Linked DNA regions of Homo sapiens: region 1 is linked to region 2. Evidence: fine-mapped expression QTL. Tissue or cell type: esophagus muscle. Region 2 holds a variant in brackets; the other region holds the start of a gene. All regions are shown on one strand. Distances are between the middles of the regions.

Evidence for each region. PIP is the estimated chance that this variant, and not a neighbour inherited with it, causes the effect.
Region 1: it holds the start of MIATNB, and the variant in region 2 is fine-mapped to the expression of MIATNB in esophagus muscle (GTEx, PIP 0.93).

What each region holds. Positions count from the first base shown.
Region 1 is chr22:26,668,730-26,676,815 of GRCh38, reverse strand. It overlaps MIATNB (MIAT neighbor), which reads right to left and starts at 3,973. Exons shown (of 6, transcript NR_110543.1): 1 at 3,829-3,973. MIAT (myocardial infarction associated transcript) reads right to left here. Exons shown (of 5, transcript NR_033320.3): 5 at 338-8,086. RefSeq lists an enhancer at 7,657-8,086.
Region 2 is chr22:26,748,602-26,756,703 of GRCh38, reverse strand. All of the region lies in intron 2 of MIATNB (MIAT neighbor), which reads right to left. Among named protein-coding and RNA genes, the nearest start is that of MIATNB, 80 kb to the right of the region's middle. RefSeq lists enhancers at 2,696-3,693, 3,694-4,692, 4,693-5,690. The variant A/G (reference allele first, on the strand shown) is at 4,546.

The sequences.
Region 1 (8,086 bases), 80 kb after region 2:
AGACCAGGAGATCAAAGCCAGCCTGGGCAACATAGCAAGACCTCATCTCTAAAAAAAAGAAAAGAAAAATAAATACCAATGGTGATAATGGTTGCACAACAATGTGAATGATACCACCAAGATGTTCACTTAGAAATTATTATGGTGGTGAAGTTTTATGTTATGATTATTTTACCAAAATTAAAAAATAAAATACCCTATTATATTGACTTCTAGGGTCACTCTTGAGGAAAGGCTGACTCACCGAGAGAGCCCACCCCTGCTCCTTGAGAATGCCACTGGCTGCCCCCTCTCCCCTAAACAGCACGTCCCTTCTGCTTCATAGGCCACAGTCATGTTTCCAGCGTGAATTGATTTTTAATAGCAAAATGGCATTTTACACAGAAGCAGCTACATTCATGGATGAAAACAAAAATCCAAGTGACGCTCCTTTGTTGAATCCATGTAAAAATCTGATTTTTAATCTACAGAGAAATTTCTACCCACACATTCGGTATCCCCTGGGGGTAATGACATGGAAAACAAACATCTTTTCTGGTCTGTTAAAGTAAAACAATGGGTCCCTGGATAGACTCTCAAGAGGGCCTTTGATGGAATGGAACCAGTCCCCCCACCCCGAAAGCATCCCCCCAGCTCAACATGTCACCATTTACACCAGCACAGCCCTCACATTGGGTCCACAGCACAACCTATTAAGAAAGGATTATAACACCTGTTCGGATTGGGAGGCCAATTCCTCAGCTCTAAGATCCTGCTCATAGCAAGCTTGATGTTCAGTAGACTCCAAAGCAGACTGAATGAGGGAGGGGTCGAAGAGAATGTGCCTGCTTGGGCTCAGCCTCCTCTAATATTGTCAAGATGCACACACACTCTTAGAATCTCACAACCATCGCCAATCTCTATGTTGGCCTAGTCCCAATCCTTCTGCCTCTGGGAACAAAAGGTTCATTACCCACCAAGGCATATTTTTCCCTCTCTGGGACCAGGATCAGCTCTTGCAAGCTTACTCCACACTTGTATCTGCCCCTTGCAGCCATGCATGACAAATGGGCTCCCTCCCCAATGGAATTATCTTATAGACTTGCAGCCTATGACTGTGTTTCCCCTGATCTTCTCCAGGGACTTCCCACCACCATGGGATGACATGTTTTCAAGATTGCTCCCCTTCCGAGCCTTTATTTTCACCTTGGTCCTCTTTACTTTCCAGTCATTGCAGAGATACTTCCAACTGGGGTAGACATGTATGGATTCTGTTTATCAAAAGATGGACCAAAGGGTCTTCCTAGTTTCAAAAAGTTCTGCTCAGTTGTCTAAAATGTGGCCAGAGGCCATTGCAAACTCCTCTGAGTTCCACCTGGGCTGGAAAAGCCAAATGGCCAGCCTAAAACTCAAATCCACTAACTCCCTTTCTCAGATCATATCCGTCGCTCCCCAAGGCCTAAGGATAAAATCTAAACTTCTTGGCAACCAGACCCGGCACCATGTCCATGTCTCCTATCTCTTGCTACATTCCACATGAACCTTCCAGAACCTCTTTGGATCCTCTCTGATCCCCAGAAACTGGTGTCCACCACTCTCGCTGCCCGGAACTCATCCCCACCCACACTCCACCCAGCCACAGCTCAGCTTAGATGCCTCCCTCTCCAGAAAGCCACCACAGGGTGGATTAGGTGTCTCTCTGTCCCCATTCCACCCCCCTGCACCCAACACACTAGAATTAAAGCTCCTGAAGACCAAATGGTGTTTAACTACCACTACATCCCCAATGCCTGGCACACGCCTGGCACAGAGTAGGTGCACATCAATCTTGTCTGTCTCCTTGGTGCTCCCACAGACCCCTGACCAATCATAACACCCATCTCACTGAATCACTATCTACTTCACCAACTCTCCCACTAGGCTATAAAAGCACCATGACGAAAAAGCCCAGGTGCAGGTCCCAGCGCCCAGAGCAGTGCCTGGCACATAGTAGATCCTTAGCAGCATCAAGTCTTTGCAGTTAAACAAAGAGGAGTTTCAGGAATAGGAGGTGTGAGCTTCCTGCTTTGAGTGAAATGGAGCAAGGCAGCCACTAGAGGATGGCAGGCAGGCACTTCCGGGTGTAGACTACCCCATCCAAGGTCCCTGCCAGCAGCCAAGGCATGTTCTCAAAGCTCTTTCTAAGACATCTTTTCTCTCTTGTGCCCTCTGCAGCTCAGGCCTCTGGATCACCCTTCACCCCCACTGCCAACTACAATTGGTTAGCTCTGAGTCCACAGTTGCCAGAGAAAAGGGCTCTCAGCACCAGACTAGCATTCAACGACCCAAGCAACCTGCCTCTAAGGTCTGTAAGCCAGCCTTTGACCTGTCCCTAAACTGATCCAATCCTCCAGGCCCTGCCTTGAACTGTCTTCTCCTGCAGACTCTGACTACCAGACTGAGTCAGCAAAACCTTGAACTAGTGCCACCTTTTACCTGCACCTGGAATCCCTTGCGTATGCTCCCTGCCCCTCTACTCCCAAAGGACGTTCCCTCAGTCTAAAGAGATCAAAAGTCCCTTCCAGAAAAACTCCCGTTTCCTCGGTGCAGCTAAATTGCACAGAAGAGTTTATGCTAGAAGAGCTAAAAGTTAGAACAGGAAGCTCAGATAATTTATACTACTAACATGTAAATGACTGACGGAGTTATAACCCTTCTGAATACTCTGATCTAAAGCTTTATGTCCTAGAACTTCCAAAACACAAAGTCCCCAAAATGAAGACTCTAGGCCCTGGCCTGGGGAAGGGTGACTCTATACAAAATGGCATATGCTCTGTAGACACCAGACAGGTATTTTAAGGTTTATAAGAGCTGCATCTACTTGTGCAAACTACTGTAGCTATAAGGCTATATTTTTTTAAGAACTGAAACCAAATGCAGACTATGAGGAGTGAAGATATGCCCAATGGCCAAAACCTTGCAAGACTGGCTATACTTCTGACCCCACCTTGGTGGGTACCACTGCTCCATCAGGCCTGGTCCACACCAGAGCCCTGGCACCTCCTTTAGAAAACTACCATCTTTACCGACTTCTGATTGTTCTGACTCAGAGCAGCCACCACGCCCAAAATTGTTAGCTATGCTTTTCCCTGTGTTAGTCAAGTTCAAACCTGTGTTAGCCAAGTTCAAACCTGTGTTAGCCAAGTTCAAAGCTGTGTTAGCCCCTTCCCAGCCATGCCGACATCCAAGCTGTTAACAGTAACGAGGAATGTTAGACCTGTTGTTAGTCAGAAAAAAATCCACAAACCATTAGTTTCTGCTGAAAGGAACAGACCAGGAAGGCAGGAGTTAGTCAAGGTGAAGGAAAGGTTAATTAAGAACCGGTCAGGGCCAGGCCAGGAGCCTGGAACCCCCAGACAGGGCCAGGTTGGTTGTTAGTGGTCAGCCCCTGGGGCAGTCAGGGTGAGGCAGGGATTAGCTGGGTGAGAGCAAGAGTTAGCGCAAGGGAGCCAGAGATTAGCCCAAAGAAACCAAGGTGCCTACTGGAGGTGAGGCATGAAATCACCCCCAGGTGTGGCCCCGGCTTAGCGGCTGGCGGGCTCTGGGGGAGGCTGGCTGAGGCAGTGACGTCCGTGGGAACAGAGAGCCAGAGATGCATTCCTGGCCGGCCTGAGCATCTGCGGGAACCCTGTGAGCCCCTGAGGTTCACTTCTTGCTCCCCACTTCTCTCTCCTGCAAACTCCGAGCCCGGGGTAAAGCTGCTTCCCCTCCCCACACCCCTTTTCAACCCGACAACTAACGCCCTCTAGCTTCCGGGAATGGGACGGATCTTTCCCAAGGACTTCCGGTCACGGCCCCACGTCTACTTACGGTGGGGGAAACCGGCCTCTCTCGGCTCCAGAGAGGGGAGACGGCTCTCTAGCTGACTTCCTGTGTGGGAAAGAGTCCTCTCACTGACTTCCGGTGTCAGAAATGTCCCTCTTTCCGGCCTTCAAATATGAGAAATGTTTCTCTGGCCGACTTCCTGTGTACTAAATACTCCACTCAGTGGTTTTTAGCGTAGGAAAGACCCGCTTCATTGACTTCCGGTGTAAGAAAGGCTCCGCTTTCTGACTTCCGGTGTGGGACACGCCCCTCTGCTAATTTCCGGTGAGGGGCACGCCCCCTCCTGCCTTCCTCGTGGGATACGCCCCCCTCGTGACTTCCTGTGCAGGACAGCTTCTATCCCCGTCACTTAACAATGGAGAGGATTCTTCCCCAGCTTCCTTCCAGAGGACACAAAAGCTCAGAGCTCCACAGTCTAGAGTCTAGACCAACAGGCCTCCACACTCACGTCCCAGAGATTTCCCTGGTCCCACCTACTCCCAGTGGCAACCAGACTTCTGCACATAGGAGAGATGTCATACTCAGAGTCCAGCCTCCCACATCCACAGGACCACCTCTTCCTCCTCTGAGTCTTGTTAATAGGGCCATCCCCTGCCTTAGACCTGGCCCAGTGGACTCTGATCTTACAGCCAATATGGGGCAGCAAAGTGGGACATCTGTCTACAGGGCCAGTAGCCCCAGGTCATCTGCTTGCCAAAAGGAGGGGGACCAGCCCCCGGGGGGAGCCCAGAGCTCGGCAGGGCTGGGGTTAGTAAGAAGAGAAAACAGGGTTAGTAGGGGCTGGGTTAGTAAGTCAGAGCACAGCACCAGCGGACAGGGCACCTCAGCAGACACACACAGGAGTCGCTAAGAGAAAAGGAAGAACGCACGCAGGTCCGTTAGTTTGTTAAGGGATGATCGGGGTGCAGTTGAGGCACCCCAGGGGTTAGACGGGTTAGTAATCGAACAAAAGAGCTGCCTACAGAAAAGAAAGCTGAGACGGAGGAAGAATGTGGGGAAGTGACATGGATTCAAAGCCAAGTGTCTTGCCCCAGGCAGAAGGATCTGTGTGCAGAACACCCAGAGAGGCCAGGGCCTAGGCAGCAGACGTGTTCAACCAGGTTTGAGGGGCCTTCCTCCATCCTCATACTTTTTTTTTTTTTAGGTGTCTGCCATGTGCTGAGACCCTTATATTGACGGGAATCCTCACTGCAACCTGTAAGGTATCAGAACTCGCATTCTACCACTGAGGAAACTGAGGTTGAGAGAAGTGAGGTGACTTACTCAAACTCACTCAACAGGAAGTGGCAGAGTTGGTGAGTCTTATTTGCATTCTCTGTCCTGGAACGTGGGTCTGCACAAAGATCCCAGCCCATAGGCAGAGCCTTCTGGAGCCTTGGCTGCCCCCATATCCCAGCCCCTTGAAAGGCCCATGAGCTGCACAGTTAGTAGGATCTGGCTGCGGGGGGGTGGTTAGTAGGGCATGCTCGGGCCTGGTTAGTGGGTTAGTTGGTTGGCAGAAGGCCAGGCACCTCGTCACACGCCACAGCGTCCCGGCTGAGCCCTGGGTTAGTAGGTTAATCACACCATGCAACACTGCCCCGGCCCCTCCAGCTGCAGCTTCAGAGGCCTCCCGCCCCCACCAGCCAGGGAGTGGGGCCTGACCAGGGCAGGGGGTCTAACTCTAAGCCCCCCAGCCCCATCAAAATCAACCCTAACCACATGGACCCTGCCCAAAAGCATGTTGCTTCCCTATTTATTGGCTGTGGGTCTCAGAGCACCCCCTGCAAATATTTCAGCTCCCCTGAAAATGGACCCTACTTGTCCTAGACAGAAACCCCCTGCCTGGTTCTGGTCAGCCCCTTCCCAGAGGGCTGGATCCTGTTACACTCTGACAGACACACGCACACCCGCATCTCTCCGCAAAAGATCTGACAACCGTGCTTAGTAGACATCTCTTCCATCACCGACTGTCAGGCCTCTAGTTTCTCCAACTATTGGCCTGCCCTCCCACCATTAGAAAAAAAAAAAACGCATCAAGCTGGCCTGGCTCCTGGAACCAAGTTGAGACTCCCCCACGCCCACCCGGTCTGCTTCCTTTTCAGCCAATGCTACAAAGCACCTAAGTGTACCCTAATTATGCCATCTTCTATCACTGCTGTACTTTTCCCATAGAAACCCCAGCCTAGCATCTCCCACAGTTCTAAACGATGTTCCATGAGAAAAAGATTCTACGGCCATAAAAGTCAAGGAACACTTCATCCTATGCCCTGTCCCTGAGTATTTGAAATTGCCATTAGCATTTTAAAGGTTCTGATAAGTCCTGCACTACTTCAGTAGTGCAGCGGAATTTGAATTAGAACCTGCTTTTTTTTTTTTTTTTTTTTTTTTAAGGAGCAATGACATTTCCTAGAAGTTACTTTAAGAATTTCCCTAGAGGGTCGGGTATCATCTCAGCCAGATCTTTCTCATCCTTCAAGGCCCTGTTTGGTACAGCTTGCTAGGAAGCTGTTCCAGACTGCAGCAGCCCTCTCTGGGGTCTCTCTACCACTTCCCAGGCACTCAGAACTTGTGCCTCAGTAGACTGTTTTGTGGCACTGTCCCATTCTCTGATTCTCCATGTGAGCTGGTTTTATCCCATCCAGCATGGCTGTGAAATCCTAAAGGTTCAAACCCCAGCCACTCTTCACCTATATTTCCCCCAAATGGCTAGCACGGGAAAGGGCCCAAAGTAGGTGCTCAGTGCTGATGAGAGAGTAGAATTTAAATACCCCAGGAAGCATTGTGAGTTACTACGGAGGCCATGAAATGCTGCCACCTCCCCAAGCTGATTAAAGAGTGATACTAGGAAAATAGGTAGGGAAGGGCTAATCAGAAATGCCTCTGGTTCAGAAGATGCTGAGTTTTAAAGTCCAGAGAGCCAAAAAAAAAAAAAAATAGATAAACCCTAAGTCTATACTCCCAGATGGATGGGAGCATTTGCTGAGCACCTACTGGGAGTCAGGCACTGTGCTAGGCACACAATCTCACTGAATTCTCCCTGCACCTGACAGGCAAGCACATTCCTTCCATTTCACAGAGCATCGGAGGCTCAGAGGTGAAGTAACTTGCCCAGGGTTGTAGCCCAGGCCCTTCTCAGGACACGGCTCTCCCAGGGCCTCCGCCTCCCTGCACTGAGCCCTGCCAGTTCCATATGTCCTCCGAAGCACTCCTGAGCCACCCCAGCATGGTACCTGCCACTCTCCGTGTCTGCTTCCCATACCTCTCTGCTCCTCCTCCCCATCCCTGGGTGGGGGCGGGAATTCTGAAGGGGAGAAGGCTCTGACTTTCCATGTTTGCGGTGACCACCCTGTTAAGAACTGAATGGTGTCCCCTCCCCCAAATGCATATGTTGAAGCAGTAGCCTGCTATGTGACTGTTTTTGGAGATGGGACCTTTAAGGGGTTAAGGTTAAATGAGGTCATAGGTTTAAGCCCTAATATGGTGATATTAGTGTCTTTATAAGAAGAGGAGGAGACACCAGAGCCTGCTCATGCTCTCTGTCCCTCTCCACAGAGAAAAGGCCATGTGAGGACATAGTGAGAAGGTGCCACCTGCAAGCCAAGGAGAGAGGCCTCACCAGAAACCAAGTCTTAACACCTTGATCTGGACTTTCCAGCCTCCAGAACTGGCAGAAAATAAATTCCTGATGTTTAAGCCATCCAGTCTGGCATGGTGCTGTGGCAGCCCAAGCTGATGAATAGTACACACCACTCCGCATTCTGGGAAAAAGGACATCTGGCTTTTAAACTTGCCTAAGGGAGGCCACAAGCTGCTCTCTTGCAAACGCTGGGACTGTCTCCTCTGGAGGGAGCTGGAATTGCAGATTGTGGGGCCTGTCCTGCCACCTTCTGTTCCCCAAGAACAGAATCCAGGAGCAGTGCAACTAGAAGCAGCGATCTGATTGGAGAAGAGTGTCCTGAGACTGGGCTAAGGTGACCCCTTAAGCCTTTGGGTAAGACTGGTTCCCTTTGGATGGCAGGAAAAAAAACCCAGGGCCACCTGTCTCTTTCTAGTGAATTTCCCTAGCCTAAATCTTATCTCTTAAAGACCCTCTCTTTTCAGGATGGTGCACTCTCAGCCCCTCTGGCTGCCCCTCCCAGAGTTCAACAGCACAGGGGGAAGGCTCCAGCTCCTCCCAGATCCTGACTGTCTCCTCTTTGTAACCATCAGGGAGAGGAAAAGCATGGAAAAGCCCCACCAAGGAAGTCCCCCACAAAATGAC
Region 2 (8,102 bases):
TGTGTATAACACTTAGCACAGAGCCTGGTGCGTCGTAGGCCCTCAAGAAATCCAGATCATAATTACAACCACCTTTATTTTCAAGGAAAAAAAAAAAACAGGCTAAATGAGGTTCAGAAACGGGGTGAGGGCCAGGCGCGGTGGCTCGCGCCTTGTAATCTCAACAATTTGGGAGGCCAAGGCGGACGAATCACACCTGAGGTCAGGAGTTCGAGACCAGCCTGGCCAGCATGGTGAAATCTCATCTCTATTAAAATACAAAAATTAGCCGGGCTTGGTGGCGGGCGCCTGCAATCCCAGCTACTTGGGAGGCTGAGGCAGGAGAATCGCTTGAACCCGGGAGGCGGAGGTTCCAGTGAGCCGAGATTATGCCACTGCACTCTAGCCTGGGCGACACAGCCAGACTTCATCTTAAAGAAAAAAAGAAAGAAAGAAAAGAAACGAAAGGAAATGGGGTGAGGTTACCAAAAACTGGGTAGCAAATAATTTTTTAGTATATCAAAGATCTCTAGGGGATAGATTTATCTTTTTTAAAAAAAATCACTCATTATTCATCTGAAATTCACTTTTAACTGGGAATGCTGTGTTTTTGCGCTTGTGTTTGCAAACCTGGCGACCCGATAACTGGGTGCCTTTGGACACAGCATTCCACCTCTCTGCTTCTGTAAAATAAGAGAAGCAAGACTCTATCCCTACACGTTTACAACAATAACTACAGGACTGTTGTGCAGATTAAGTGAGAGGATACAGGTAGTGAATATAAAGCCGGTCAGGGTTAAAGTTGCCATGTCCCTGATCACACCTATTTGCAGAGTTTAGGAAAGAAAAGGAGTCCAATAGCCACTAAGTTTAATGTGACTCCAGGCCTTTGTATGCTCTGTGTCCTGCTCCTGGATGACCCTCCCCTCTCTAATGACTCCTGAAGGTTCTCTCTGACGCTCTTCTTCCCAAATCGTAATCCCAACACACATTTCCTTGGAGCTCTCATCTATTTCATCTCAGACCCCTGCCTCTACCTGTCTTCTACCTGCAGGGAGAGGCAGCGTATTACTCCTTACCTGGCCTGCCTGGCACATACGAGACATTCAACTAACATTTGTGGAATGGGTGAATGTAGACATGGCTCAAGGCTCAGAGAAGAATACCTTATATCATGTGGCGTGGCAATGCCAGAAGGTAAGACCATGAGGGTGGGCTCTGCCCTGTTCCCCTGCTATAGCCCCAGCATCTAGTAGGCACCTAACAAAATTGGTTTACTTTAATGCAAACTGCTAACCTGACTGAGCTCTGTGTCTAATGCGCTGTGCCAAACATTTAATTATTTAAAACTTTTTATTTCCATAGGTTATTGGGGAACAGGTGGTGTTTGGTAACATGAGTAAGTTCTTTAGTGGTGAGCTGTGAGATTTTGATGCACCCATCACCCAAGCAGTATACACTGCACCCAATTTGTAGTCTTTTTTTTTTTTTTTTTTGAGACAGAGTCTCACTGTCGCCAGGCTGGAGTGCAGTGGCACCATCTCGGCTCACTACAACATCCGCGTCCCGGGTTCAAGTGATTCTCCTGCCTCAGCCTCCCAAGTACCTGGGACTGCAGGTGTGCACCACCACCCCCAGCTAATTTTTGTATGTTTAGTAGAGACGGGGTTTCACCATCTTAGCCAGATGGTCTCAATCTCTTGACCTCGTGATCCACCTGCCTCGGCCTCCCAAAGTGCTGGGATTACAGGCATGAGCCACTGCACCCGGCCCAATTTGTAGTCTTTTATCCCTCACCTCCCTCCCACCCTTTCCCGCTGAGTCTCCAAACTCCACGGTGTCATCCTTATGCTTCTGCATCCTCATAGCTTAGCTCCCACTTATGAGTGAGAACATACGACGTCATGCCAAATACTTTAAATATTTTCTCAACTATTAACTTTTCACAATGATGCAGGGAAGTGGTTACTATTATTGTGCCCACTGTACAGATAAGGAAGCTAAGGCACAGCAAGCTGGAGCCTTTGCCCAAGATGATGTAGATGTATGTGGAGGAATCGCACCTGAACCACAGCAGCTGGATCCGGTGCCCACCCTGAAGTTACTCAAGGACTTCAGAGACAGACCTTGACATGAACACGGTTTCCAACCTTCTCCAGTGAATGACCTCAGCAAATCTCTTCTCTCTGAGTTCCAATTCCCTCCATTCCTAAAGTGGAGAGAATGAAATTTCCAACCACACAAGATGGTGGTAAAGAACAGAAACTGTTCATGGAAAATGCACACAGCAGGTGCTCAATAACTGATGGTCTTCCTGGAAAATGCACACAGCAGGTGCTCAATAACTGATGGTCTTCCTGGTGATCACCGAAGCCCTGAGAAAGCAGCTTCTTAGGGCCACCATTTGCAAAACAGCACTTTGTGGTTGCTAATTCCTCATAGAGAGAAAAATAGCTGGAGAGATTTCCATTAAGATTTTCTCCAGAAATCAGTGCCCCTGGCAAGCTGCAGGGCTGAGGAGTGCCTCTAAGGTACCTGGAGTTCCAGTCCACAGGTGGAGGCTGGGGGAAAGGGAGGGAGGAGTAAGGCAGGGATGTCTTCAGGGCCCCGGCTGAGTCCCCTCCCCACCTCCACGCAAAGGACAGAGGAAGTGGGATGAAATCGGGGGCACTTTGGGGGCTTGAGGCACAGTGGGGTGACATTCTGTCTGAATCAGTATTCCTTTTGCCCTGATCCTGCACCACGACCAGCCAATTTCTGTCAATTTACTCTTCCTACCTAAAATTTCACTGGTTTCTTACCTCATTCATTCTTTATTCATGCATTTATTCAATAAATTTCAGTTGGGTATCTGCTATGTGCCGGCACCATTCATTCTTGGCACTAAGGATCCAGTGATAAACAGACTTGGTTTTTGCCCTTCATGGGGCTCACAGACTAAGGTGGGGGCAGGCAGGGGGTATGGAACAGACACTAAAGATATAATAATTAGATCGGAGTGACAGGAAAGCCGAGGGGGCTGCGAGCACTCAGGAGATCAAGGAAGTCTTCCTGGAGGAGGTGACATTTAGGTGGAGATGAGGAGAATGAGTGGGGGGTGAGTCATCCAGGGGAGTGGGGCAGAACACTCCAGAGAGAAGGGGTTGGTAGGCAAAGGTCCCAGAGTGAGACTGAGGACCTGCAGGGGATGAAGTGAGCATGTGCCAGCACAGGGAGAGATGAGGCTGCTGAGGGAAGCAGGGCCAAGGTGGATCTTGAAGCCCTAGTGAGGATTTATGGCTTTTGCAAGGGTATTGGGGAGCCACCGAGGGTTTTATGCAAGTGGAGTGGCATCATCAGATTTCCAGCAGCATTAAATACAAACTCTTCTCCCATCTGCCCCCTCCTGGCTAGTATCGCTCCTCTCATGCCCTCTACTCCCCTTAACCAGGCTCCTCCTGAATCCCCAATGTTACGCTAACCTGGCTACATCTTCCGCCTGGACATGCGCATCTTGGGCTGCACCAGGGCACAACGAAACAAGCCCCAGGTTTGGATCAAACAGACCCAGCTTCAAACCTGGCCTCTTTGGCCTCTGGACCACCTGGATCAGGTCCCTAATGTCTCTGAGCCCCAGTTTGCTCATCTGTAAAATGGAGATCATCACTGTCCACCACTAACAGTGTCCTGAAAGGACCTGGCTCTGACACTTACTGTTTTCTTTCATCTGTTCCAGAAGCATGCCACCTCCTCCAGGCAGCCCCCCACCCTTCACTCCTCCAGCCCTCTGAACACCAGAAGCACTTCCTGTTTGCCCCTGCCCCCGGGTAACATGCATAGAACATAGCTGTTAAGAGGTGCATCCCTCCAGCAATCAGAAACCATTTGGGGTCAGAGCCCAACGGGTCTTTCCCAGCAGATCCTGGGAGTCTGTCTGCCCAGGGACAGGACAACTCCTTAAAGCAGGAGAGAGATGGACAGACAGACAGAAGGGCTCTGGGGAGCTAAGTGAGGTCCCAGGGAGTGTCGAGACTCCATGTGCTCATTTTCTGGGGTGGATCAGGATCTGGGAAATCACTCGGAAAGCTGCACCTCTTAGGCCAGACTGATAAACAGGCTGCCAACTTACAGTGGGGAGCACGATCTCCCGCTGTGACTGCATCCCCCAGATGGTGGCTGAAGGGCTCAGGCCTCAGCAAGTGATGGAATGGGGTGCCTCAGGCAGGAGAGGAACTGCACCCGGCCCCACCCCAGCAGAAGGGTCCCACATGTCCACCATTCCTGCTCTCAGGAAGCCAGGGTTCCCACCCCTACCCCCAACAGTCTCCCACTGACACCTCAGATGCCCACCTTCCTGCATCTCAGCAGTCCTGGGCAGCCAGGAAGAGACGCTGGCTTTTGGGCTTGCATGACACAGGGTTGGGGGGGTGGGTCAGGATAAGTCCTGGGGCTCTGGGGGGCCCTCGGACACAGAATGCAGAGGGCTGGGCAACATAGTGTCCCCCACACTGGTCACCTCTCCCAGGTCTCTTCCTCAAGCACACCTCAGACTCCCCACCCCTCTCTGAGCATCGGTCTCCTCTGCAC[A/G]ATGATGACCCATAATATTCTGAATTAATAATTCCAGTAATGTTGACACCCCCACCCCCACCACCAATGTCAAGAGTCTGGCAGGAACATCAGTAACCATAGCTACCAGCAGCACCCACTTAGCTTCTGGCAAGTTCCATAGAAATTCTACAATCTTTTTGGGTAAAGAGACTGACCAAGGTGAGGGAGTCACTTGACTAAGCCCAGGTTACCACTAAGAAAATACCAAATGAATAATGGCCCCCAGGGAGTTAACACTCACTAGGGGCCCACTACTATTCATTTACCTGAAATGCTCAGCTAATGCTCACAGTCACCTTGTGGATTATTATCCCTATTTTATACAAGAGGAAATTCAGATTCAGGGAGGGAAAGTAACTTGCACAAAGTCACATAGAAAGTTAGAAGAAGGGCTGGGACTCAGACCTAGTTCTCTGGATGTTAAGACTGCTGGCAGAATTTCTAGATGGGGTGAGAAGGAGAGGCAGGATGTCCCACCCAGACCAGCCTCCATCCTGCACCATAAAGACACTTCCTTCCCTCTGCCCAGAAGTGGAGTCATTTCTCTCTTCCCTTTTAAAGGTGGATTTCTCCTCCAGCTCCTCCCTGCTCCTTCCCCCTCCCCCAGCAGCCACCCCGCTTCCCTGAGCTGCCTTCCTCCCCCTCTCTCTCTCACTCTCCAACACAAAGAGTTGTCAAGGTAACCGCATTGCCAAGGACTCTCTCTTTGTCTGGGGCCCTGGGAGGAAATGCATAAGCCAAGTCGCTGCTCACTGACCCCAGATGACCCCCACAGGGAAGGACAGCCCTGGACCATCTTTTCAAGGACTGCTTGCCTCACCCCACCTATTTCAGCCGACTGCACCCTGATAGCAGCTCCAGGTGGCACATTCCAAGTCCCAACGTGCAAGAGGCTGAGGACCTGGAGGAAGTGTCTTGGGGCATAACTTCCTGGAGACACACTGCTAGAAACACTCAGGGAAAGGAAACAGCAAAGAAAGAGCACACTATGTGCTTGGTACTGGGATGGGCATTGCCGATGGTACAGAGAATAACATCCACTATTGTGCCTGACACTGCAAAGCACCTTGGGTGACACTGAGCATAGCACCTACTGAGTGCTTAGGCCTTTGCTAGACACTGACAGGGCACTGAGCACAGCCCCTACTTTGTGCTTCCCTCTGTGCTAAGATGACGGAGAGGTGCTGGCCATGAGATGAGTTTGAGAAGGAATCTCTGAATGGCAGGTGTTTGAGTCAAGCCTTGAAAATCCTGGTTGAATACACAATGAATAGGGTTGAAGACATTGGACAGGGGGAAAATCAATACTCTCGGAGCTAAGCAGTAACTATGGACCCAGCAGGTCAGGCATGTCCCTTGCTTTAAACAGCAAAGTCAGGATTTGACATCAGACTCATCTGATTCCACGTTCCCTTCCCCCCTGTGGTGGTAACTGATGATGTTCCAGGTGATAGAGTCTCCATCAGCCTGAGTCTGTGGATGAGAAGGATGTGGAGCAGAGCCTCCACCAGCTTGGTTGGTGAAGACTTGGTTTTTGCCCTTTGGTTTTTCCCGGAGGCGTACACCGTGCACACAGAGCACAAGCAGCAAATCAATCTTGGCTGCTCTGTGCCATTAAAACCTGAGCCAGGCTGGGCACGGTGGCTCATGCCTATAATCCCAGCACTTTGGGAGGCCAAGGTAGGTGGATCACCTGAGGTCAGGAGTTTGAGACCAACCTGGCCAACATGGTGAAACCCCATCTTTACTAGAATTAAAAAAAAAAAAAATTAGCCAGGCGTGGTGGTGCACACCTGTAGTCCCAGCTACTCGGTAGGCTGAGGCAGGAGAATTGCTTGAACCCGGAAGGTGGAGGTTGCAGTGAGCTGAGATTGTGCCACTGCACTCCAGCCTGGGCGGCAGAGCAAGACTCCATCTAAAAATAAAAAATAAGAAAATAAAAAATAAAAAATAAACCTGAGCCACTAGATTCCTTAAAGAACTAAAAGTAGAGCTACTATTTGATCCAGCAATCCTACTACTGGGTATCTAGCCAGAGGAAAAGAAAGTCATCATACAAAAAAGATATTTGCCCACACATGTTTATAGCAGCACAATTCGCAATTGCAAAAATATGGAACTAGCCCAAATGACCATCAATCAACGAGCGGATAAAGAAAAGGTGATATATAGATATATATACACCATGGAATACTACTCGGCCATAAACAGGAATAAAATCGAAGCATTCACAGCAACCTGGATGGCATTTGAGACCATTATTCTAAGTGAAGTAACTCAGGAATGGGAAACCAAACATTCCACACTTACAAGTGATAGGTTAGCTTTGAGGACACAAAGGGATAAAAATGACAGAATGAATTTTGCGGACTCACGGGAAAGGGTGGGAGGGGGTGAGGGATAAAAGACTACACATTGGGTATAATGTAGACTGCTGGGGTGAGGGGTGCACCAAAATCTCAGAAATCACCATTAAAAACTTATTCATGTAACCAAACACCATCTGCTCCCCAAAAACCAATTGAAATAAAAAATAAAATTAATAAATTAATAAAAAAAATTTTTAAAAACCTGAGTCACTGTAACTGAGAATTTAGGAGGTATTAGTTATATTGCAGCATATCACAGTCCACTCTGACTGTTACATCATCAGACTGAACCAAAATCCTGCGGCTGGCCCTCCTTGAGTCTCATCTCTGAATCAATCACTGTAGGCTGAGGGCAGCAGTACTCGATTGGCTCAGACCTGGTTCACTGGCCATGCCTACCTCCAGTGAGGGAGGAGAAGGAGTCACCTCTACCCATGTTGTTGGGCTTGGCATGGCCAAGGGTGGCTTTTCAAGGAAGATGGCATGCTGTTACCAGAAAGCGGGGCAGTTGCTGAAAAGGAGATACGAACACGTGTCCACTTTGAGGGCCTCATAGCCAAATGCTGTGCAAGAGGTTCCTACGCTGAATGGGAGACAAGTTCCCAGGCTGCTGCTGCTTCTCACAAGTCTCTGAAATTTGCCTGGAAAAAGATTCTATTGATTTTTTCTGGGTAACGTGGCTTCTTCCCTCAAAGAAGTCCTTTGGTTGCCGGGAGGCCTGCCAGGCAAGGGGTTGGCTTTCCCCAGGAAGGGTGGAGAAGACTAGGCTGGGGTAGGGAAATCAAGGGGAGAAGGAATGGCCAGCTGCCCCTAGCTGCCCAGGGAGAGGGAGGAGGCCAAGCTTGCTCAGAGCAGTAGTTGGAGACTAGCACGGACACCCCTGTGATCCTTTTTTCTAAAACCCAGATCTTTTGCCTTCACTTCTCTCCTTAAAAACCTTACATGGCTCCTTGCAAACTAAAATCAGCGTTGATTTCTATGCCAGGCACTGAACAACGTATTCCATTTACATTGTTATCCCCCCTAAAACTTCATAAGCAGCTATTAGAGTTTAGAGTTTTAACTCGTGAAAAATATGAGCAAATGAATGCTCAGAATCACAAGTGGCAGAACCAAGGTCACAGAACTCAAAACAGAGCTCCTAGTCTTCACCCACCCATTCAACTT